6 linked regions of the Homo sapiens genome follow. The protein of the gene in region 1 interacts with the protein of each later gene in a biochemical or structural test. Each region holds a gene or a part of one and is shown in the gene's direction. Other genes may lie near its edges. The genes, in order: WBP2, SDHA, COPG1, COPB2, KRT9 and COPA.

Region 1 (3,500 bases):
GAAATTTTACAGAACCCCCAACCTGCTCATTTCTTCCATGGCTATATTAATGGGTTTTTTTGTTGGTTTTTAGTTTTTTTGTAGAGATGAGGTCTCACCATGTTGCCCAGGCTGGTCTCAAACTCCTAGGCTCAAGCGATTCACCCGCCTCAGCCTCCCAAAGTGCTGGGATTACAGGTGTGGGCCACTGCGCCTGGCCCTATGAATGGCTTTATTTATTTATTTGTTTTTGAGACAGAGCTTCTCTCTTGTTGCCCAGGCTGGAGTTCAGTGGCGCCATCTCAGCTCACTGCAACCTCTGCCTCCTGGGTTCAAGCGATTCTCCCGCCTCAGCCTCCTGACTAGCTGGGATTACAGGTGCCCGCCACGGTGCCTGGCTAATTTTTTTGTATTTTTAGTAGAGATGGGGTTTCACCATGTTGGCCAGGCTGGTCTCAAACTCCTGACCAGGGGTCATCCGCTCGCCTCGGCCTCCCAAAGTGCTGGGATTACGGGCGTGAGCCACCGCGCCCAGCCCTATGAATAGTTTTAATGCCGCACTATTGAGAGGTTATGAGAGCTGACGTGCCGGGCAGCTGCTTGGGAGAAAGGCCCAGTGTCTGGGTGACGTCGCGTCTCCATACTGTCTCATTGAGGCTTTTCCTCTTTTCTCATCACAGCATCCTAATGTCCTATGATCACGTGGAACTCACATTCAATGACATGAAGAACGTGCCAGAAGCCTTCAAAGGGACCAAGAAAGGCACTGTCTACCTTACCCCTTACCGGGTGAGTTGCACAGCAGGGCAGTTGGTTGAGAGGCTTGTTGCTGTTGGAGGTGACGTGAGTCTTAGTCTCAGGTCTGCCTCAGCCTCATGAGTCAGGTGGCCTCTGAATCCTGGTGAGTGTTAGTGCTTCACTCTGCCTGTTTCTCTGTCACATGCTCCTGGATTCCAGAATCACCAGGCTCTTTGTGTAACTGACCTGACCACTGGGCAGTGAACCCATGTCAATTCCAGAGCCGCTGCTGCAAAATCTCTATAGAGTTGGATGCAGCCGCTGGCATGACTTGGGCCTGGAGGCCAGACTATTATTATTAATATTTTGTTTTCTGTGAGAGTAGCCCATGAAGCCCTGTGTGTATCCAGAGTGAGAAATCCAGTAAACAGGGTACAGTTGCATGGCACGGCCTCCGGACTGGGCAGAGAGCCCGGTACCACCCCGCAGAATGACAAATGCCAGGCTGCAGAATGGGCCCTGCCTGAGAGTTACCCACGTGGACTCTGAGAGGTTGAGAAATACAAATGGATGTTCTTGGAAAAGGATTGCTGCCTGTGGCTACTCAAGATTTAGACTCAAAGACAGGCTGGTGCGGAGGCTCATGCCTGTAATCCCAGCACTCTGGGAGGCCAAGGTAGGCAGGCCACTTGAACTCAGGAGTTCGAGACCAGCCTGGGCAACATGGCAAAACCCCATCTCTACAAAAAATACAAAAATTAGCTGGGTGTGGTGGCACATGCCTCTAGTCTCAGCTACCCGAGAGGTAAGGTGGAGAATAACTGGAGCCTGGAGAGGTTGAGGCTGCAGTGAGCTGGGATCATGCCACTGGATTCTAGCCTGGGCAACAGAGTGAGACCCTGCCTAAAAAAAAAAGACTTAGACTCAAAGACAGCTGGAAGAAGAGGAGCACATTTTCAAGTTTTAATCTCCATGACTTCACAAAGACAGGAGAGTCTCAAAACCCCATCTCTGGAGGCTCAACTTGGCACCTTCAGTCACAGATAAAAGTCGTGGGTTTAAAACCCTGGCTGGGGCCGGGTGCGGTGGCTCATGCCTGTAATCCCAGCACTTTGGGAGGCCGAGGCGGGCGGATCATGAGGTCAGGAGATCGAGACCATCCTGGCTAACACGGTGAAACCCCATCTCTCCTAAAACTACAAAAAATTAGCCGGGCATGGTGGCGGGCACCTGTAGTCCCAGCTACTCAGGAGGCTGAGGCAGGAGAATGGCGTGAACCCGGGAGGCGGAGCTTGCAGCGAGCCAAGATCGCGCCACTGCACTCCAGCCCAGGCAACAGAGTAAGACTCCATCTCAAAAAAAAAAAAAGAAAAGAAAAGAAAAAATAAAACCCAAGGGTTTCTCCAGGCACAGGCTCCAGGAGAGCTCTTGTTGCTGTTTATAGCCCCCCTCAATGGGAGCTAGCGACCTACTGCACCATCATTCTCAGTTCTGGAGAGTTCAGGCTGGAGACCCCCCTCTTTCAGGAACCCATCCCTGCCTTGCCTCTGCCTGTCCTTCCCTAGCTTCGTAGGCCCCTTCACTTAGGCAACACTGCCACCACCCCACCACGTCAGTGACAAAGCAGTCTGCCCTGCTCATAGATACTATCTGTGACCAGCACGTTTTTCTCCCGTGTGCGTGAGCTTGGCCTCTCCAGGCTGCGGTGAGCCCTTTCCCTTTCCAAAGCTCTCTCCAGGAGTGTCTGGCACAGAGAGAGCCATGGGGCTGCTGGACCCTGGCACTGGGAGAGGATTCGTCACTCCCAGGAAGCAGGCGGGAAGCATGGCAGCGTGGGCTGTGCTTCTAGTACTGATGGCCTCACCCTCTCTCCCTGCAGGTCATCTTTCTGTCCAAGGGCAAGGATGCCATGCAGTCCTTCATGATGCCATTTTATCTCATGAAAGACTGTGAGATCAAGCAGCCCGTATTTGGTGCAAACTACATCAAGGGAACAGTGAAGGCGGAAGCGGGAGGTAGGTGATGGGAACTCAGGGACACGCATGGGGCCTGCAGGGAGGTGTCCTGGGAACCTCTGACTGCCGCCGTGGGGGCGTCCCCTTCAGACCCTTATCGCCCTAGCCATGACCTCTTCCCAGCTCTGGGCTGCCAGCTGGTGGGGTTTGATTGCCAAGAGGTGGGGAAAATGCTGGCATGAAAGACAGCAGCTCAGATCAGCTTTTCAGAGCGTGAAGTCTGCAGAAGCCTGCGGACTGAGTCAAGATGCTTAGTGCAACTTGGCGAGCGCATACAAATTTTAGACTCAGGAAGGAGCTGCATCAGGTTCTTGAGAGGGGCCTTTTCATGAGAGCCAGGAAGAGGCAGCTGCCTCTGGGAAGCCAGAGTCACCCTGCTTTGGGGCTGGCTTTTTGGCAGGCCCCAGAGACCTCTGCATTGAACTTGCCTTCCCCTTGACACCCAGCCAGGCCCGCCCTTGCTATTGAGACACTCTTGGTCCCCCTTTGGGCAGAAGCCAGGCTAGAGGGGCCGGAGTCTGTCCTTGGGCCCCCTTAGGACGAGAGGTCTGCTCTGAATTTTAAGGTCGGCTGTTGCTGAGTGGGCTTGTTCCTGTGAAGCTGCCGAGTGCTTGACTGGGGGCGGAGAGAAACCTTGATGTGGCCTTGGCACCCGTGTACATATTGGGCCAAGGGTGGGAGGACAGGCTTGTTCCAGGAAGGAGAGGCCATTGTTCCAAAGGGGGAAGCGAGTACAGCAGGGCCAGGCCAGGCTGCAGTGCTGGCTCC
Region 2 (3,500 bases), on another chromosome or scaffold:
CCACCAACTACAAGGGGCAGGTGATGGTGCTGGCTCCTCCCCCACAGCTGGAAAGAAGGCTGGGACGACGGGGCCCACCTCGCAGTTGTCTCTTTAGATCTTACAGGAAAAGATAGATGTTTCCTTCAAGAAAGTACTGTATTGTTTTCTAGATTGCACTTTAAATTTCTATTACCGGAGGATGGAGGGGGCTTAATAATTTATTCCTCCTTAGTAAATTGTCAGAGATACATCATTTGCAGCTTTTTCCATTTTGTAATTACTTTCCTATATGATCTTGTGTTATTTCTAATGATCTTACACATCAAGGGATCTTTATAATTCATTCCTTTGAGTGGTTTGTGGTTCACACAGAGCTTGTCAGTCACTTAGGCTCCTTGTTGGGCGAGGTGGGTGGAAGCTGTTGCTCTCCCTGCGTAGACGAAGAGGTGAACGGGGTAGAACAGTCTGGAACATCAGTCTCCCCTGCTGATGTTCCTCCACCTGCCGTGCTCCTGGGTCTGAGCCGGAGCACAGGTGGTGAGGGCCCCGGGAACATGGGACACGGGGGACAGTCGCAGATGCTGACATTGGAGGTCCTCTGACCTGCTTGTAACAGCAGGTGCTCAGGGGCAGAGGGGAAACTGGGGGATACCTTCGGAAGCTTCCCTCTGAAGAAGAGTAGCTATGGTCCTTACTTCCCTCTTAGATACGGTCTTTACTTCCCTCTCTTTTTTTTTCTTGGAGATGCAGTCTCACTCTGTTGCTTCGGCTGGAGAGCAGTGGTGCGATCTCAGCTCACTGCAACCTCTGCCTCCCAGGTTCAAGTGATTTTTCCGCCTCAGCCTCCCTAGTAGCTGGGATTACAGGCACCCGCCATTATGCCCCGCTAATTTTTGTATTTTTAGTAGAGATGGGGTTTCACCGTGTTAGCCAGACAGGTCTTGAACCCCTGACCTCAGGTGATCACCCACCTCAGCCTCCCAAAGTGCTGAGATTACAGGCGTGAGCCACCACGCCTGGCCTACTTCCCTCTCTCTGACCTGCAGCACAGACACCCTGTTGGGGAAGGTGGGCTGGTGGAGGCATGGGCACCTTGACATTTCACCTGAAATCTTCCTTTCCACAGGTCCTGAGGCACGTGAATGGCCAGGATCAGATTGTGCCCGGCCTGTACGCCTGTGGGGAGGCCGCCTGTGCCTCGGTACATGGTGCCAACCGCCTCGGGGCAAACTCGCTCTTGGACCTGGTTGTCTTTGGTCGGGCATGTGCCCTGAGCATCGAAGAGTCATGCAGGCCTGGTAAGTGTTTTCTTCAGGAGCCAGACTATTTGAGAAGGCGCAGGACGTTAGAAAGTCTTTTTTCTTTTTTTTGAGAAAGGGTCAGCCCAGGCTGGAGTGCAGTGGCACAGTCATAGCAGCCTCAACCTCCCGGGCTCAAGCAGTCTTCAACACCTCAACCTTCAGAGTCCCAAGTAGCTGGGACTACAGATGTGCACCACCACACCTGGCTAATTTTTAAAAAAATTTATTTTGTAGAGACAGGGTCTCACAATATTGCCCAGGCTGGTCTTGAACTCCTAGACTCAAACAGTCCTGCCTCAGCTTCCCAAAGTATCGGGATTACAGGCATGAGCCACTGCACCCAGCCAGGTTACAAAGCCTTGATTTCTTACTGGAAATTTGCTTAGTGATCATATAGAGGTAGTCTGGGTTTTTCCCCCAGAAGTGATTAAACTGAGAAATCCAGAAATTATATGGTGGTAATGTTGAGACTAGATAGAGGCTGGTTGGGGATCTTAACAGTTAAGGTGACATTTTTGGGGTTACATTTTTTTTTAATTATTTTGCAGTCATTATGTTCTGTTTAGAAAAAGCACTATTAGAAAGTTGTTATTTTTAGGGGAATCATTACATATTACTTGCCTGATAAAAATCACTTATTTGCAATGAAATATTTTAAGTAGTTGGCATGAATGAATATGTAACTTCTTGGTACTTAGAAAAGTAATTTAGGCCATTCTAGAAACAAAGTACAGCTAGCCTCTATTAGAGGAGAAGGGATGACTTACAGTGAACAGGATTCCCACCCTTTACGGACAGATTGGATTTCACTTGCTGGTTTTCTTTTCATGATAGCATCAAATAATGTGCAGTAAAGGAAATACCATGTGTGGGAGTGTGAGTCTTACGTGCACTAAGAACGGGGCAGTTAGCATCTCTCCCACCTCCAGACATCCTCACGGTGGTTATCCAGCCTCGTGTGCTCAGAACAGTGTGAGGTGGATGAGGCACTGGTGGATGTTTGCGTGGCAAGGATGGTGGGACCCCAGGCCCATGTTCTTCCCGTTACCTTTCTCTGGTGTTAACTGTTAGCATCATTTCTGCTGTTTTTATACAACAGGTGCTTTTTGTATGGATTCAAGTGAAATAAAAACTAGCACGGCTGTAACTTATAAACGTGCCCCCTTTTGTATCTGTAGTTAGAAAGGTGCAGATAGTATTAAAAGGGTAGCTTACTTCAGACACTCTGTCTCTGGATCTGACCACCGCTCGGGAGGCCAGCACACGCAGAGCTGGCGTCTCATCCCCAGCCATTGGTGATCATCGGCGAAGGCGGAGTTCAGGTCCATCGTTCCTGACGCCGCAGGTAGTGCTTGTCTCACTCCATAGCCCTGCACTTTGTCGCAGTGAGGACTGATACCACTTCTCTCAGAGCAATGTAGAAATTTTGAGCTGCTCTTTCTTTGAAAATGCAAAAAAGAACATTTTGTAAGAATACCCTATACTTTACATCTGAGAAACCGCCCACGCATGCAGCATCTCACGCAGAATGCTGTGGAGTCAGACTCAAAAGGCTGCATGCCTGTGGTTCTGTTGATACGACATTCTGGAAAAGGCACATCTAGGGAAGACAAGGGATTGGTGGTTGCCAGAGGCTGCTTCCTGATTGTGCTGAGACTTACAGACACAACTCTGTGTGTGTCAAAATTTGAAAAACCCTACACTAAAAATGATGAGTTTATTTTACTGTATCTTTATGCTTTAATTTTCAAAAATGAAAAGGAAAGAAAAAATGCTTGTAGCATCACTATTCTCCCCCAAAACCCCCTGCAAAAAAAAATACATATATATACACATATATATGTATTTTTTTTTTTTAAGAGATAGTCTCCCTCTGTCGCCCAGGCTGTAGTGCAGTGGTACGATCAGGTGCACACCACCACACCTGGCTAATTTTTAAAAATGTTTTGTAGGGACAGGGTCTCCCTGTGTTGCCCAGGATGGGCTTGAACTCCTGGCCTCAAGTGTTCCTCCTGTCTCAGCCTCCCGAAGTGGTTACATGCGCCTATACATGTGTTAAAATTGGTAGAACTGAGGCTGGGTGCAGTGGCTCACGCCTATAATCCCACCGCTTTGGGAGGCCGAGGCAGGCAGATTGCTTGAGCTCAGGAGTTCGAGACCAGCTTGGGCAACGTGGTGAAACCCCGTCTCTACCAAAAATACAAAAATTAGCTGGGC
Region 3 (3,500 bases), on another chromosome or scaffold:
TGGCCCCCCCTGGATAATCCAGGATAACCCCTAGCTCAAGATCCTTAATTTAATCACATCTACAAAGTCCCTTTTACCATGCAAGGTAACATAGCTGCAGGTTCTGGGAATTAGCATGTGGGCATCTTGGAGTCATTATTCTGCCACACCTTCCAAGGAAGTCTCCTAAGCCGCTTAAAGGGTAACAATTCCATTTTTAAACAATCATCCAAAAGCCTCACATTTACTAATCACATACATGTTCAGTTCCAAGAACTTTCCTAGATCTTGAATTTATTGCCTCATTTGTCTTTACAACAACGCTGTGATCAAGATAATGATATCAGTTTTATTGATGAAGAGTCTGAAACCCTACCAACAGAATCCCCCAGGGAGTAAGTATCAGGCCCAAAACTCTGAGTCCCAAGAAAATAAATATCAATAGAAAAGCACTCTAGTGGTTGATGGTCATGGTGGCCCAAAAGTTCCTCCTAATATCTAGCCTGGATTGTTCTGGGCTTTTTATTGCCTGCATATTCATTAGATTCAGTCTTCAGGCTGCAGAGGGCTGAAGTGGTCACATAGGCTGACTTTTTGTGGAGGAAAAAAGCAAAATAATAAAAATAAGGCCTACCTTTCTCTATGTCTGAAACGTGAATTGAGTACCTTCTAAGTAAAGGGAAAAATATCAGATCCATGGCCTCAAAGCACAATCCCTGTTCTCATGGAGTTCAATTAATTGGGAAGACAAGTTGAAAATCTTAGAGCAGTGGTCTTTAAATATCAGTATATATTGGAATAATCTGAGGAAACATGTTAGAAATGCAAATTCCTTGATCCTGAAACCAGAGATTCTGATGTAGTAGATTTGGGATGGAGTCTGAGTTTTTAGCAAGCTCTGCCGCCAACCCCTAGTAATTCTGATACAGTTGATCCATGGTCATAGTGCGAGGAATCCTGCCATAGAATAGGTACAAGAGTGGCAGCTGTAGCCATTATAGGTGGACACCATGTGCACACATCTGCCAGATGCCTCATTCACTTGGGTTATTCCCTTTAGTTTGCAAGGAATGCCAGGACCAGCCAGGGTGGGGTCCCATGGGCCTGTGCTTGAATCCAGTGCTTGAACCTGGGCATAGGGTGTAGGGATAGGTCTTACCAGACACAAACAATTCTAAGTTAGGTTTTCTGCAACACTCTCATTCTGAAATATCTCTTTATTGGCCATTTGTCTTAACTGATAAATATATAGGACCAGTTTGTTATTTTGTCTGATTTTGTAGCTATAGCAGTATCGATCTTATTTTCCTAATTGTCACCTTCTTTTAAGAATCCTTGCTGCGGTAGGGGGCGGAAATCCTTGCTAAGCTTCTATAGCTGGGGGATTCTCCAATTAGGTCTAGGATTTTGTGGTCTCATATCAGTTTTTTGCTTCTGAGGTCTTTCATGGTACAGAGATGGGGAGAGTATTTGTGGGGGGTTGTGCCACATGAGCGAAGTCAGGGAGATGAGAAAATGCATGGATATATTCAGGAAATAATGAGTAGCCAGTTGGGTAAACATATCTATCCATCTAAGGTAGGGTGGAACACCTTGAGAATGGTCATGGGAATTTATTAGAAACCATCAACAAGTTGGTCTGGGGATCGAGAAGCTGAGTGAATGTGGCCTGTGGATTTCAGAGCAGTTGGCAGCAGTGCCAGAGTTCCGCGGTCTTGGGCCCCTCTTCAAGTCCTCGCCTGAGCCCGTGGCCCTCACCGAGTCAGAGACGGAGTATGTCATCCGCTGCACCAAACACACCTTCACCAACCACATGGTTTTTCAGGTGAGCAAGGTGGGCTGAGGCCCTGCTGGGGCATGCGCCCAGGGAGTTGTCCCAGGTCTGGCAGGTCCTGTAGGGTCATGGGTCCCCACACTGCATTGGTTGGGAGCCCAACTTGATGACAGAATCTGTCCCCAACAGGTCGGTCTCTCATATCTCTTGACTCGGGACATCCATGGCTCCCGATTGTCAGCATGAAGACAGGGAACCTGGGGCAGGGGGACTGGGATGGGAATCACCTTGGTCAATAGGAAAGAGGTGGGACCTCCTGGCTTTTCCTCTGCAGCATGGCTCGGACCTAGTGCAATGTTTAAGCTCCCCTCTCTTTCCTGTTCAGTTTGACTGCACAAACACACTCAATGACCAGACCTTGGAGAATGTCACAGTGCAGATGGAGCCCACTGAGGCCTATGAGGTGCTCTGTTACGTGCCTGCCCGGAGCCTGCCCTACAACCAGCCCGGGACCTGCTACACACTGGTGGCACTGCCCAAAGAAGACCCCACAGCTGGTGAGCCCCTCTCCAGATACCACCCTATCCTCCTGGGAGCTCATGGGGTCAGGAGGAGGTGGGCGGCTGGGCACCAGCTGTTTGCCTTCTATTAGAGCTTCAGCTCCTTGATTTCAGTCCCAAGAAGAAGAATAGCTGAGTCCCAAGTGCTCTTCTTTAAAAATTTTTTTTTTTAAAGAGACAGGATCTCACTAGAACTCATGACTTTCCTGTCCTACAAGGTGGCACCCTCTGTCCAGCTTTGTGGGATTGGATGGCTTGTTGCTGCTACTAATAACATAGCAGGGGCCTAGAAAGCAGGCTGTGACCCCTGCCTGCTTGTCCCCTGCAGGAGGAGCCCATCCCCTGCAGGCTGGGGACATCCTAACTACCCAGCCTCTCTTCCCCACAGTGGCCTGCACATTCAGCTGCATGATGAAGTTCACTGTCAAGGACTGTGATCCCACCACTGGGGAGACTGATGACGAAGGCTATGAGGATGAGTATGTGGTAAGATCCTGGTGTCAGGAAGCTCAGTTTTGTGCTGAGGCTGCAAAGCAACTCCCTTCAGGAACTGACAGTGAGACTGGAGCTGTTTTTGGCTTTTTAGCTCTTTAAAATTTTATTTTTTTATTTTTATTTTTTGAGATGAAGTTTCTCTTTTGTTACCCAGGCTGGAGTGCAGTGGCGCGATCTCGGCTCACTGCAACCTCTGTCTCCCTGGTCCAAGCGATTCTCTTGCCTCAGCCTCCCAAGTAGCTGGGATTACAGGCGCCCACCACCATGCCTGCCAAATTTTTTGTATTTTTGGTAGAGATAGGGTTTCACCATGTTGGCTAGGCTGGTCGCGATCTCCTCACCTCAGGTGATCCACCTACCTTGGCCTCCCAAAGTGTTGGGATTACAGGCGTGAGCCACCGCGCCCGGCCTAAAATAACTTTTTAAACTTATGGAAATACATGTTCATGTGTAAAAAGAAAACTTGGGAAATACAAAAACAAAATTCAAAACAAAGTATGAACAACAGGAAAACATTACTCATAATCCTTAGAGTTATTTTTGGGGGGAAGTGGTATAATTGAAATCATTCTTACAGTGTAGACCTTGCTATTTTAAAACCATAGTGTATTTTCCAGTATCATTACAAATACTTCATAAACACAATTTTTTTAGTGGATTTAAAATACTGTTATATACTATGTCAAAACTTG
Region 4 (3,500 bases), on another chromosome or scaffold:
GCAGGTCTGGGCATCTTATAATGCTGTGCTGAGTATTGAAAAAGACAAAAGATATAAACCAAGTATGCCGCCTAGTTCAGTAAATGGTATCCATAATTATTTGTAATATAATTGTCTTATAAAGGTTAAGAATGCATTATGCATATTTCCCTTAATATCGTAAAACATTCTTGGCTGTAAGTTTTGCCTTTGGCAGTCTTTTGATACCAGCCTTTACAGTGTTATAAACAACTTTAAAGATAGTTGTCTTATGTCCATTGGGAAAATTTTCGTTGACTCTGCAGCATTCTGTTTTCTCATTATTTAAATGTTAAAATATCCTCTGTATTTTGCTGAATTTAAGTCTTTAAAACCTGGAGTGAGATATTTTTATTCATTTGAATGATCAGCTTTAAAATGAAGATAGTCTTTGTAATAATATAGTGCCTTCCTGTGGTATAAATGTCATGAGCAAAGTTCTAGGCATCTTGGTGCTCAACAAATACTGGTTGAATAATTGGAATCCTCCTCCTTTGCATTTCCAGCCATTCTCACCTTCCTGCCTCCAGTTGCCTTTATTTATGAGAAGACCATTCCAATAACATTTCAGCAGTAATGCCATATTCATAATTTCCTTTTCAATTTGTTGGCTAGAATTTTTTTTGTAACTTTGTATTCAAAGAAATGTATAACTTTTAAAAGATGTTAAATTGTAATAATGAACTAAATAACATTTGTTATTAGAATTCTTTTACCATAACATGAATTATTGTTCCTTAACTTCTACATGTCTTTGGTCCTCTGTACTTCCCTCCCTGGCTTCTGTGATTTCTAGGTTTGTGGTGGTGTGTGGTGATGGGGAGTATATCATCTACACAGCAATGGCATTGAGAAACAAGAGCTTTGGATCTGCTCAGGAGTTTGCATGGGCCCACGATTCTTCAGAGTAAGTTTTGATTGTATGATAGCCAGCATGCCCTGATTGCAGATGTGTTGTGTGCTGCTTGAAGACTCTCAAGGCTTGATGTGGGCTGTGATTCTCCGTGTTAAAAAACAGTTCTCACCAGAGCTGTCCATTGGAAGATGAGAGTCAGAGGCGAGTGTATAGCATGAGCCGTCTTAGTGCTTTCTTTGTTCTGCGTTAGGCTGGCTCACTCAAGCTGATACAATAATTCCATTTAACTGGGGACCCAGCACCCATTTCTTTGATGGAGCCCATGGCAGGACCTGGTGCTTTATGGGCTTAAGGCACAGTAGACCCTCATGTCTGCCTTGGCAGGCCTTGGCATGCCCTCCCTGTGATGTAGTGTCCTGAGGTGCTACTGCCCCTTTATGAGCTACTTGGGAGTGATGTTGTGGTTTGATCATTTTGATGAGAAATTTATTAAATCTTTTTTAAAACTTATTTTCTGTGATAGTACCCACTGCCCATTCTTAACAAATTTCTGTCTGAATTCAGAATGTTCATAAAATGTTCTCATTAAAAGCAGGAAAGATCATTTAACTCTGACTTTTTTACTAGTCATTGGCTCTGGTTCCTTTTTGATTCCTGTTTAATGCACGTAATAAACATTAGGGGTTTAGTGTTTTCAGACCACACAACTGAATTACATTTTCACAGTTTTTTTAGTTTTGTTTGCCCCACATTTTATGTTGCATCTTGCCCCCAACAGTGGGGTAACTTAAGCCTCAGCGTTGTGTAATAAGATACATTTTTTAAAATGTTACAACAGTAAGATTTATTGAGAGGTATGGAATTGTTCTGATATTTTCATAAATTTCCTAAATACACATATACATACAGTTCTATGTATTCAAAGGTAATGTGTTATCTTAAGCAAAATTATAGTTGATGAATTGCCTTCTCTCAGCACACCTCTTCCTCTATTTTGATAGTCCTTTTTTTCAGCTCTATCCAGCCAAGACCTTGCTCAGCATCTTTCCTGTCCTGAGCAAAGCCCTCATCACATCACTTCCTCAGACAATCTTAAATATCCAGTGATAGCCACAGCTCCTTTTTTCAAGGCAGAGGCCTGAATATAAGCAGTTGTTGCTGATGATGGCTGATTAATGAACCATTTGTCACAGTTTTTATTATTTAAATCGCCCTTATTGAGGTATAATTTACAGAAGACAGAATGTACCACTTAATTGTACAGCGATCCCCCGATCTGTGGTTTCCCTTCCTGCAGTTTTAGTTACCCACAGTCAACTGTGTTCCAAAAATATTAAGTGGAAAAGTCCAGAAATAAACAACTCATAAGTTTTAAATTGCCCAGTGTTCTGAGTTGCATGGTGAAATCTTGAGCCATCCTACCTGGGACGTGAATCATCGCTTTGTCTAGCATATCCACATTGTATATGCTGCCCACCTCTTACATTATAGGAAAAAACATAGTGTATATAGGGTTCAGTACTATCTGAGGTTTCAGGCATCCATTGGGGCTTAGAACGTATCCCCCATGGATAAGGGAGGACTACTGTTCATGTCAGTAGATTTGGGCAAATGTATGTAATCCGTAACTACTAACACAATCAAATTATAGAACATTTCTATCATCCCCGCAAAATCCCCTTGTCTCCATTAACAGTCTGTCCATACCCCCCATCCACCCATTCCCCAGTCCCAGGCAAACACTGATGAGTGCCTTTTGTCACTATATAGATTAGAGTTGTCTTTGGAGTTTCATATAAATGGAATCATACAGTATGTACTCTTGAGTCCAGCATCTTTTGTTCAGTATAATGTTTTTGAGATTCATCCATATTCTTGCCTGGATCAGTAATTGGTTTCTTTATTTGCAGAGTAGCATTCCATTATATGAATATACGATAATTTGTTTAATCATTCACCTATTGTGGACATTTGGGTCATTTTCAGTTTCTAAAGTGGTTTGTAAGCCCTAGTAATTCATGTCATACACAGTATAAAACCCTTTCATCATTTGTCCAACTGTAAGGAGTTCTCTGATCTCTTAGGAAAACAGTACATCAGATAATCTTCAAATATTTATTTTATATTTTTGCATAATTACTGAAAAATATTTGAAGATATTTCCAACATTTGGTAGAACTATGATTTAGTATATAACATGTTATGTTTGCCTTCCCTTTTTTCTCCCAGGTATGCAATAAGAGAGAGCAACAGCATTGTAAAGATATTTAAGAACTTTAAGGAAAAAAAATCATTTAAACCAGATTTTGGAGCAGAAAGTGAGTGTGATCTACATATGATACATTTTTAAATTCTTTGTAATGGCTCAAAAATGCCTAAGCAAAACTCTTTTTATGTTCCCTTTAGGTATCTACGGCGGCTTCTTATTGGGAGTCAGATCTGTAAATGGCTTAGCCTTCTATGACTGGGACAATACAGAACTCATACGAAGAATTGAAATTCAGCCCAAACATGTGAGTTTCCCCTCCATTGTTGTTTTTGGAATATTTATTTTTGTGATGAGTTCTGGGTCCCTAAGGCCAAGAAGTGTCTTTTGTACCCTGCTCTCCCTCTTCGATTATCAAAA
Region 5 (4,049 bases), about 34 Mb from region 1:
CATGGATTAGAAAGGTCATTCTGGCTGCTGTGCAGGAAGAGTCAGAGGGAATGGGAGAGGCAGGGAGGGCAGTTAGAAGCTCATGGCTAAGGTCTGGGTGAGGGCAGAGTTGACGGGGAGTTAGGGGGCTGAATGATCAGAGGCAGCCGAACATTTTTTGAGCACTTCTCACAAGTCTCTTACTAGGAGATGGACAAACTACTCATATCAACCTTTTTCAAAGGAGGAAACTGAGGCACAGAGTATTTAAGTAACTTATCAAAGTCACACAGCTCATGAGCATGGAGCTGGATGGAGCTCAGGTAGGCACACCGGAGACCAGCGTGTTCTTTACCATTCTCTTCTGGCCTTGGTGACCAGAATATACATCCAAGTTTCTGCCAGGAGCAGGGATAAGTCACACATCTCTGTATCCCCTCCAGAGTTCTGTATGGGGTAGGCACTCAACCAAGGTCAATTCCACACTCCCTGCTGGGCCCTGCAAAAGGACCAGGACAGTCGAGCCACTTGCATTCCTGCTCAGAGGTCAGCTAGTGTCAGCACCACCTTGTTTATTTGGTCCACTTTCTTCTTCCAGCCCTTTGTGTGAACTCTGCACGCTGTCCTTTAGTGCTGGCGGGCATGGTCTCGGTGCCCGTCTCCATCTTTTGGCCATGCCAGTTGCCTCCTCATCAAACTGGAGTCTCCCAAGGGCAGAGCCTCAGACTCTGCAGAAAGCCTCGAGGATCCTGAGAGCAAGGATTGGTTTTCATCCATTTGGGGCTCCACAAGGGCAGGGGCTGTGCCTCCCCCTCCTCTATGATAACTCCTTAGTACCCTAGTTCCAGCTCAGCTCACAGTGGGCACAAGGTGGGAGCAAGGAGGCATGAGGGATGCAGACAGTAATGACCATCAATAGAGGAGGTGACTCTGCTCTTGGGAGTTTCTATCCCGAAGGGGCTAAGTCTCAGACCTGCTGTTGGGGCCAGCCAGAGACCAGACTCCAGGATCTAGGTCACCCCTGTGGCAGTACAGCTGATTTATGGTGGCCCTGACAGCCTAATGTCATCAAATTATCCCACACAATGGAGAGAGGCTGGGCCGCCCCCAGGCAGTCACCAAAGGACGCTGAGCCTGGGGCAGCCCGGCTGCCTCCGTATCCCAGACCTCCCTCGGGTCTGTGGGGGGAGGCTGGCACAGAACAAGGGCACACCCAGGCGTGCCACCTTCAGCTGGGGGTATAAGTAGGCAGCCCCAGGGACAGCTCTGTACCCTGCACTTGGGAGCCGGTAGCACTCCTATCACTGCTTCTCAACCCGTGAGCTACCAGCTGTGTCATGAGCTGCAGACAGTTCTCCTCGTCCTACTTGAGCCGCAGCGGCGGGGGTGGCGGGGGCGGCCTGGGCAGCGGGGGCAGCATAAGGTCTTCCTACAGCCGCTTCAGCTCCTCAGGGGGCGGTGGAGGAGGGGGCCGATTCAGCTCTTCTAGTGGCTATGGTGGGGGAAGCTCTCGTGTCTGTGGGAGGGGAGGCGGTGGCAGTTTTGGCTACAGCTACGGCGGAGGATCTGGGGGTGGTTTTAGTGCCAGTAGTTTAGGCGGTGGCTTTGGGGGTGGTTCCAGAGGTTTTGGTGGTGCTTCTGGAGGAGGCTATAGTAGTTCTGGGGGTTTTGGAGGTGGCTTTGGTGGTGGTTCTGGAGGTGGCTTTGGTGGTGGCTATGGGAGTGGGTTTGGGGGGTTTGGGGGCTTTGGAGGTGGTGCTGGAGGAGGTGATGGTGGTATTCTGACTGCTAATGAGAAGAGCACCATGCAGGAACTCAATTCTCGGCTGGCCTCTTACTTGGATAAGGTGCAGGCTCTAGAGGAGGCCAACAACGACCTGGAGAATAAGATCCAGGATTGGTACGACAAGAAGGGACCTGCTGCTATCCAGAAGAACTACTCCCCTTATTATAACACTATTGATGATCTCAAGGACCAGGTAGGTGCAGGAAACTGTCTCTGTCTTGGTCTCTTTCTCTTTCATTCTTTATCTTCCAAAAAAGTTAAAATGCTAAACTCTAAGCTCAGATAATAGCCAGGGAATCCACCTTTTGGAAATGTACGCTTTCATCAGAAACAAACTTGTGTTTGGTTTCTGGGGATCCCAGGATAGGACTTTGGCCTGTGCTCTGAGTGTTCACTTCCATTTCCTCAACTTTCAGAGTTTGGGCAGAGCAGAGAGGAGACCTGGGTTAACGTGAGCTGAGCTGGGACTGGATGTGGAACCTCCTTTAGGTTTGGTCTAAGTCAATACTTTCTCTTCCTTTGTACTTCTCCTGGGCTTCTTTAGGAGTGTATCTTGATCTTTTAAGGTATTTTGGACCTGACTGTACATGTTGGTTATTCAAGTGTTGGAGAGGATCCAGAAATCTGGGAATGGAAGCTATCTATCCATCCATCCTTCCATCTATCCCTTCCTCCCTCCACCCACATGTCTATCTATCTATCCATTTATTCAGCCACTCAGTTCAGTGAGTGCCTACCCTCAGGGTTGCTCTGGGTAGACATAGTGATGTGCTAGACCTAGTTCTGGTGGAGCTCACGGTCTGGCTCTTCAGTATTCTCAGTGATTCCTCTTGTTTTAACTCCTGCATGTCTCTGAATGTGCTGTTTCTTCTACTCTAAACCTCTTCCATTTATTTATTAATGTTACATCTTAGCCATCCTTCAGGGCCCAATTCAATTGCCAGCCACCTCCTTCCTGAAGTCTTTCTTGATCTCCCATTGCCATAAGCCACCTCTCCTTTCCTTGAACTCTTTTAGGACACTTTTGACTTTGTAGTCAATGGTGGGCTCCCTGAGGAACAGGATGTCAGTAATCTCTAAATCCTACAATGCCCTTTGCAGTAGATCTTCAAATATTTGTTGAATGAATGAATGAAGGCCACACCAAACATCTTCGCTGAAGGCTGGAAGGGGTCTGTGCCATGTCCCAGCTGTTGGAAGTTCCTCATTCCTCTTGAGAATCTTCCTGGATGGAATCCTCACCTCCTGTGGCTTTGCCTGGCCTCTTGCCCTCTCAGCAGTGGTCCACAGCATGATATCATGGCTGTGTCCTTTTTTTTTCAGATTGTGGACCTGACAGTGGGCAACAACAAAACTCTCCTGGACATTGACAACACTCGCATGACACTGGATGACTTCAGGATAAAGTGAGTCCTGCTCCTCTTCTCCTCTCCTGTCATCAGCCCTTACCCCTGAACCTCAGTGCTCTGGAGGTCCTGGTAGGGCCTGGTTCCCTCTTGATTGTTTTCTAACCCTGGCTGGTCTGCAGGTTTGAGATGGAGCAAAACCTGCGGCAAGGAGTGGATGCTGACATCAATGGCCTGCGGCAGGTGCTGGACAATCTGACCATGGAGAAGTCTGACCTGGAGATGCAGTATGAGACTCTGCAGGAGGAGCTGATGGCCCTCAAGAAGAATCATAAGGAGGTAGGTTGCTGGGGCTTATGGCTTACCGGGAAGAGGGAGGAGCAGAAATGCAGAGACAGCAGGGGAGCTTTGGAACATTACCTGGGAGACACCCTCTCCTTTGCTCTTGAGGACACTTTCAACTTCTCCTTGGCATCACCTATGGTAGTGGTTGGGCTTTGGCTTCACAACTGTGTCCCCTTTTTGTACCCTGGGGGGACCAGAGGGAGAATTCTGAAAGGTGGTGCAGAGGACTTTATCCGTGACCTCATCTCCCCTTCTTCCCTGGCAGGAGATGAGTCAGCTGACTGGGCAGAACAGTGGAGATGTCAATGTGGAGATAAACGTTGCTCCTGGCAAAGATCTCACCAAGACCCTCAATGACATGCGTCAGGAGTATGAGCAGCTCATTGCTAAGAACAGAAAGGACATCGAGAATCAATATGAGACTCAGGTGAGCAGAGTGGGCTGCCCATTCATCCTCCTCCCCTCCATCTATTCCTATCTCCATCCCTCCCACCTCCCATTCCTTCATCCTCCTATCTCTGCATCTCTCAGTGCAGCTGTCATTTATCCATCTTCCAATGGAAGTCATTCATCCATCTTCATTCACTGCATAC
Region 6 (3,500 bases), on another chromosome or scaffold:
AGACTGTTCTGGGGTGATGGACACCTTGGATTGGGACTGGGTTGTGGGTAGCTCTGCAGACTTCCAGGCCATGAAACGAACTAGGATTGATTTTACTTCCTTTGGCTAAGATTATGCCACTGCCCAAATCTGTTTTGAGCTTGAATTTTCCTTACAGATGGGTTTGTGGAGGCTACAGAAGGTTTGGGGGATGATGCTCTTGGCAAGGGACAGGAAGAAGGAGGTGGCTGGGATGTAGAAGAAGATCTGGAGCTCCCTCCTGAGCTGGTATGTGGAATTTGTACCCTTAGAAGGTTCTCTCCGTATCTCCCTGTGGAAGCCAGAGGCCTTATTGTCCCCTACCACTATCCTCAGGTCTCCTATCCTATCCCCTACCACTATCCTAAGGTCAGCCCTTCTGGGAAGGGGACTAGACCCTCCTAGTCTGATGCTTATCTCCCATTTGAAAGAAGGAAGATGGCTGGGCACGGTGACTCATGCCTGTAATCCCAGCACTTTGGGAGGCTAAGGCAGGACAATTGCTTGAGCCCAGGAGTTCAAGACCAGCCTGGGCACCATAGCAAGACCCTGTCTCTATTTTAAAAAGTAAAAGAAGCAGGAAGAACGAGAGAGTCAAAGTTAGTGGCCTTGTCACTTCCATCTATCCTGATATGCTCCAAGAGGAGAGGATGTAGGACTTATCTCTAATCTGATGCTTAACTCCCATTTGAAAGAAAGAAGAATGAGGTAATCAGCGTTCTGCCAGCAGCAGCTTATGAGAAGGTAGCAAGCTGTTTCATCTGAATTGGAGTTTTTGATATGTCATTTTGTCACTGGTGAGGTGGCTCCTATTTTGGCAGCCTTCTCCCACAACTATCACCCCTCTTCCTCAGTGGGGGCAGGGAACAATGTAAATGGTTGTGTTCTAGATTCAACAGAACAAAGTGCTTGAATGGCTTAAAAAATTACTCAATTTGGCTGGGCACAGTGGCTCACGCCTGTAATGCTAGCACTTTGGGAGGCTGAGCCAGGCAGATCACTTGAACTCAGGAGTTGGAGACCAGCCTGGGCAACATGGCAAAACCCCATCTCTACAAAAAAATACAAAAATTAGCCAGGTGTGGTGACTCATGCCTGCAGTCCCAGCTACTCGGGAAGCTGAGGTTGGAGGATTGCTTGAGCATGGGAGGCAGAGGTTGCAGTGTGCCGAGATCATGCCTCTGTACTCCAGTCTAGGTGACAGAGTGTGACCCTGTCTCAAAAAAAAAAAAAAAATTACTCAATACTCAATTTTTGTTTTTCCCCTAGGATATATCCCCTGGGGCAGCTGGTGGGGCTGAAGATGGTTTCTTTGTGCCCCCAACCAAGGGAACAAGTCCAACTCAGGTAAGCGGGAAGAAACCTAGCACGGCAGGGATGAGTGGCTAATACTTGATTGGTATATAACAGGTGTTGGCTACTTTTCTACTATAGTTACAGAGGAGAATAGAGAAGGGACAAAGTTTCACTTGGCTTGGGTTTTTTTGTTTCTTGTTAGATCTGGTGTAATAACTCTCAGCTTCCAGTTGATCACATCCTGGCAGGCTCTTTCGAAACAGCCATGCGGGTAAGTAACCTTGGCTTTTCCTCTTGAGTGTGCCTAGCCCAGGGTCCCCGGGAGATGGTTGACTCATTTTAATCAAGGGAAATTATCCTACCCATAAGGGGAAAGGTGTATATTTTTCATGAAAACTCTTTATCTTTGTTAAGTACACTTGCCTTCCTGTTATCTGCCTTCCACTTGGCCTAGTAATCTCTTAGGGCATATCCTTCAGTCATCTTCCACCCATTTATAGCTTGCTTTCTGGCTCATATCAGTGAGATAAGTACCCCTTTCCAAGCAGAGGTCTGTTTTGAACACTAAGCCAGTATTGTTATAATAACAACAATAATGATAACACTGCAATAACTGCTAACGTTTATTTAATGTTCACTGTGTGCCAGGCACTATCCTAAATACTTTAATAGGTATCATTAAATGAGGTAGGTCTTACAATTAAGTGTATTTTACTGATGAGGAAACGTGAACAGAGAAATTAATTACCTTGCCCAAGGAAAAGTAGCTTTTTATGCAGCAGGGCCAAAATCCTTGTTTCTTTCCTTCTGTTCCAGCTCCTTCATGACCAAGTAGGGGTAATCCAGTTTGGCCCCTACAAGCAACTGTTCCTACAGACATACGCCCGAGGCCGCACAACCTATCAGGCTCTGCCCTGCCTACCCTCCATGTATGGCTATCCTAATCGCAACTGGTAAGGCCCTTTTCTCTTTGCTTTCATCTGTTCCAAGTTGTGGTCGATATTTCAGATGGTAGCCTCAGTGACATAGTCAGAATTCTCTCAGAGCTAGGGTTTCCCAGTAGAAAAAGATCTTTGGTTTGTTACTCTATGGGGTTGGTTTACACCTGCTGTCATCCTCTTCCCCAGCTACTTTAACAGGAGACAGGAGGGTAGCTATGAGGATGTTTGCCAGAAAAGGAAATTGGGTCCTAGTTGCCTACTGACTATCCTGTCTTCTTCCTACTTTTCCCTTTCCAGGAAGGATGCAGGGCTGAAGAATGGTGTACCAGCTGTGGGCCTGAAGCTTAATGACCTCATCCAACGGTTGCAGCTGTGCTACCAGCTCACCACAGTTGGCAAATTTGAGGAGGCTGTGGAAAAATTCCGTTCCATCCTTCTCAGTGTGCCACTTCTTGTTGTGGACAATAAACAAGAGATTGCAGAGGTAGGAGGGTCTAGCCGCTGTCCCAGTTCTGGGCACTTCCACATTCTTGTCTCTGTATCCTGACCTTCTGCCCCCTCTACAGGCCCAGCAGCTCATCACCATTTGCCGTGAGTACATTGTGGGTTTGTCCGTGGAGACAGAAAGGAAGAAGCTGCCCAAAGAGACTCTAGAACAGCAGAAGCGCATCTGTGAGGTAAGATCTATAGGACCCTGAGCACAACAGAGACGTCCTTCCCTTCACCCTTCACTAGGTTTGAATTCTTTAATTTCAAACCCAGATCTGAGTGGGGATGAAGAGAAATTTAGGCCCTTCATTTCTATGAGGGGAGGATACATTTCTTCATCCTACTTCCTCATCTCACCAGTCCTCCATACCTAGGAGGTAGAAGACCTCTCAGCTTTATAGCCCATCATCCTATTTTGTGTTGTGTTTTTTATGCATGTGTAGCAGCTTAGAAATGACTTCTACCAGGTGTAGCATCAACCTGGCATGTGTTCCTTTTTCTGTCCACCAGATGGCAGCCTATTTCACCCACTCAAACCTGCAGCCTGTGCACATGATCCTGGTGCTGCGTACAGCCCTCAATCTGTTCTTCAAGCTCAAGAACTTCAAGACAGCTGCCACCTTTGCTCGGCGCCTACTAGAACTCGGGCCCAAGCCTGAGGTGGCCCAACAGGTAGATGGAACTCCTTCAGTGACCATAGGGAAGCCAGATCAGCTCTTACATGGAGGGAGCAGACCAAGGTCCTTGCCTCTGAAA

What was found.
Region 2: the proteins of WBP2 (region 1) and SDHA form a complex in vitro, tested with the Homo sapiens proteins (one study listed by BioGRID).
Region 3: the proteins of WBP2 (region 1) and COPG1 form a complex in vitro, tested with the Homo sapiens proteins (one study listed by BioGRID).
Region 4: the proteins of WBP2 (region 1) and COPB2 form a complex in vitro, tested with the Homo sapiens proteins (one study listed by BioGRID).
Region 5: the proteins of WBP2 (region 1) and KRT9 form a complex in vitro, tested with the Homo sapiens proteins (one study listed by BioGRID).
Region 6: the proteins of WBP2 (region 1) and COPA form a complex in vitro, tested with the Homo sapiens proteins (one study listed by BioGRID).

Annotation. Positions count from the first base shown.
Region 1 is NC_000017.11:75,848,836-75,852,335, reverse strand, and holds part of WBP2 (WW domain-binding protein 2), read left to right. Parts: intron 1-659; coding exon 660-768; intron 769-2,596; coding exon 2,597-2,732; intron 2,733-3,500. UniProt on the Homo sapiens protein: Acts as a transcriptional coactivator of estrogen and progesterone receptors (ESR1 and PGR) upon hormone activation. In presence of estrogen, binds to ESR1-responsive promoters. Synergizes with YAP1 to enhance PGR activity.
Region 2 is NC_000005.10:235,320-238,819, forward strand, and holds part of SDHA (succinate dehydrogenase [ubiquinone] flavoprotein subunit, mitochondrial), read left to right. Parts: coding exon 1-20; intron 21-1,108; coding exon 1,109-1,280; intron 1,281-3,500. UniProt on the Homo sapiens protein: Flavoprotein (FP) subunit of succinate dehydrogenase (SDH) that is involved in complex II of the mitochondrial electron transport chain and is responsible for transferring electrons from succinate to ubiquinone (coenzyme Q).
Region 3 is NC_000003.12:129,270,106-129,273,605, forward strand, and holds part of COPG1 (coatomer subunit gamma-1), read left to right. Parts: intron 1-1,661; coding exon 1,662-1,804; intron 1,805-2,040; exon of another isoform or gene 2,041-2,138; coding exon 2,139-2,310; intron 2,311-2,701; coding exon 2,702-2,799; intron 2,800-3,500. UniProt on the Homo sapiens protein: The coatomer is a cytosolic protein complex that binds to dilysine motifs and reversibly associates with Golgi non-clathrin-coated vesicles, which further mediate biosynthetic protein transport from the ER, via the Golgi up to the trans Golgi network.
Region 4 is NC_000003.12:139,369,148-139,372,647, reverse strand, and holds part of COPB2 (coatomer subunit beta'), read left to right. Parts: intron 1-814; coding exon 815-925; intron 926-3,103; coding exon 3,104-3,192; intron 3,193-3,280; coding exon 3,281-3,387; intron 3,388-3,500. UniProt on the Homo sapiens protein: The coatomer is a cytosolic protein complex that binds to dilysine motifs and reversibly associates with Golgi non-clathrin-coated vesicles, which further mediate biosynthetic protein transport from the ER, via the Golgi up to the trans Golgi network.
Region 5 is NC_000017.11:41,569,260-41,573,308, reverse strand, and holds the start of KRT9 (keratin, type I cytoskeletal 9), read left to right. Parts: upstream 1-1,249; 5' UTR 1,250-1,316; coding exon 1,317-1,958; intron 1,959-3,088; coding exon 3,089-3,171; intron 3,172-3,293; coding exon 3,294-3,450; intron 3,451-3,721; coding exon 3,722-3,883; intron 3,884-4,049. UniProt on the Homo sapiens protein: May serve an important special function either in the mature palmar and plantar skin tissue or in the morphogenetic program of the formation of these tissues. Plays a role in keratin filament assembly.
Region 6 is NC_000001.11:160,291,251-160,294,750, reverse strand, and holds part of COPA (coatomer subunit alpha), read left to right. Parts: intron 1-157; coding exon 158-267; intron 268-1,287; coding exon 1,288-1,365; intron 1,366-1,516; coding exon 1,517-1,585; intron 1,586-1,924; exon of another isoform or gene 1,925-2,130; coding exon 2,131-2,267; exon of another isoform or gene 2,268-2,552; coding exon 2,553-2,739; exon of another isoform or gene 2,740-2,821; coding exon 2,822-2,932; exon of another isoform or gene 2,933-3,254; coding exon 3,255-3,416; exon of another isoform or gene 3,417-3,494; intron 3,495-3,500. UniProt on the Homo sapiens protein: The coatomer is a cytosolic protein complex that binds to dilysine motifs and reversibly associates with Golgi non-clathrin-coated vesicles, which further mediate biosynthetic protein transport from the ER, via the Golgi up to the trans Golgi network.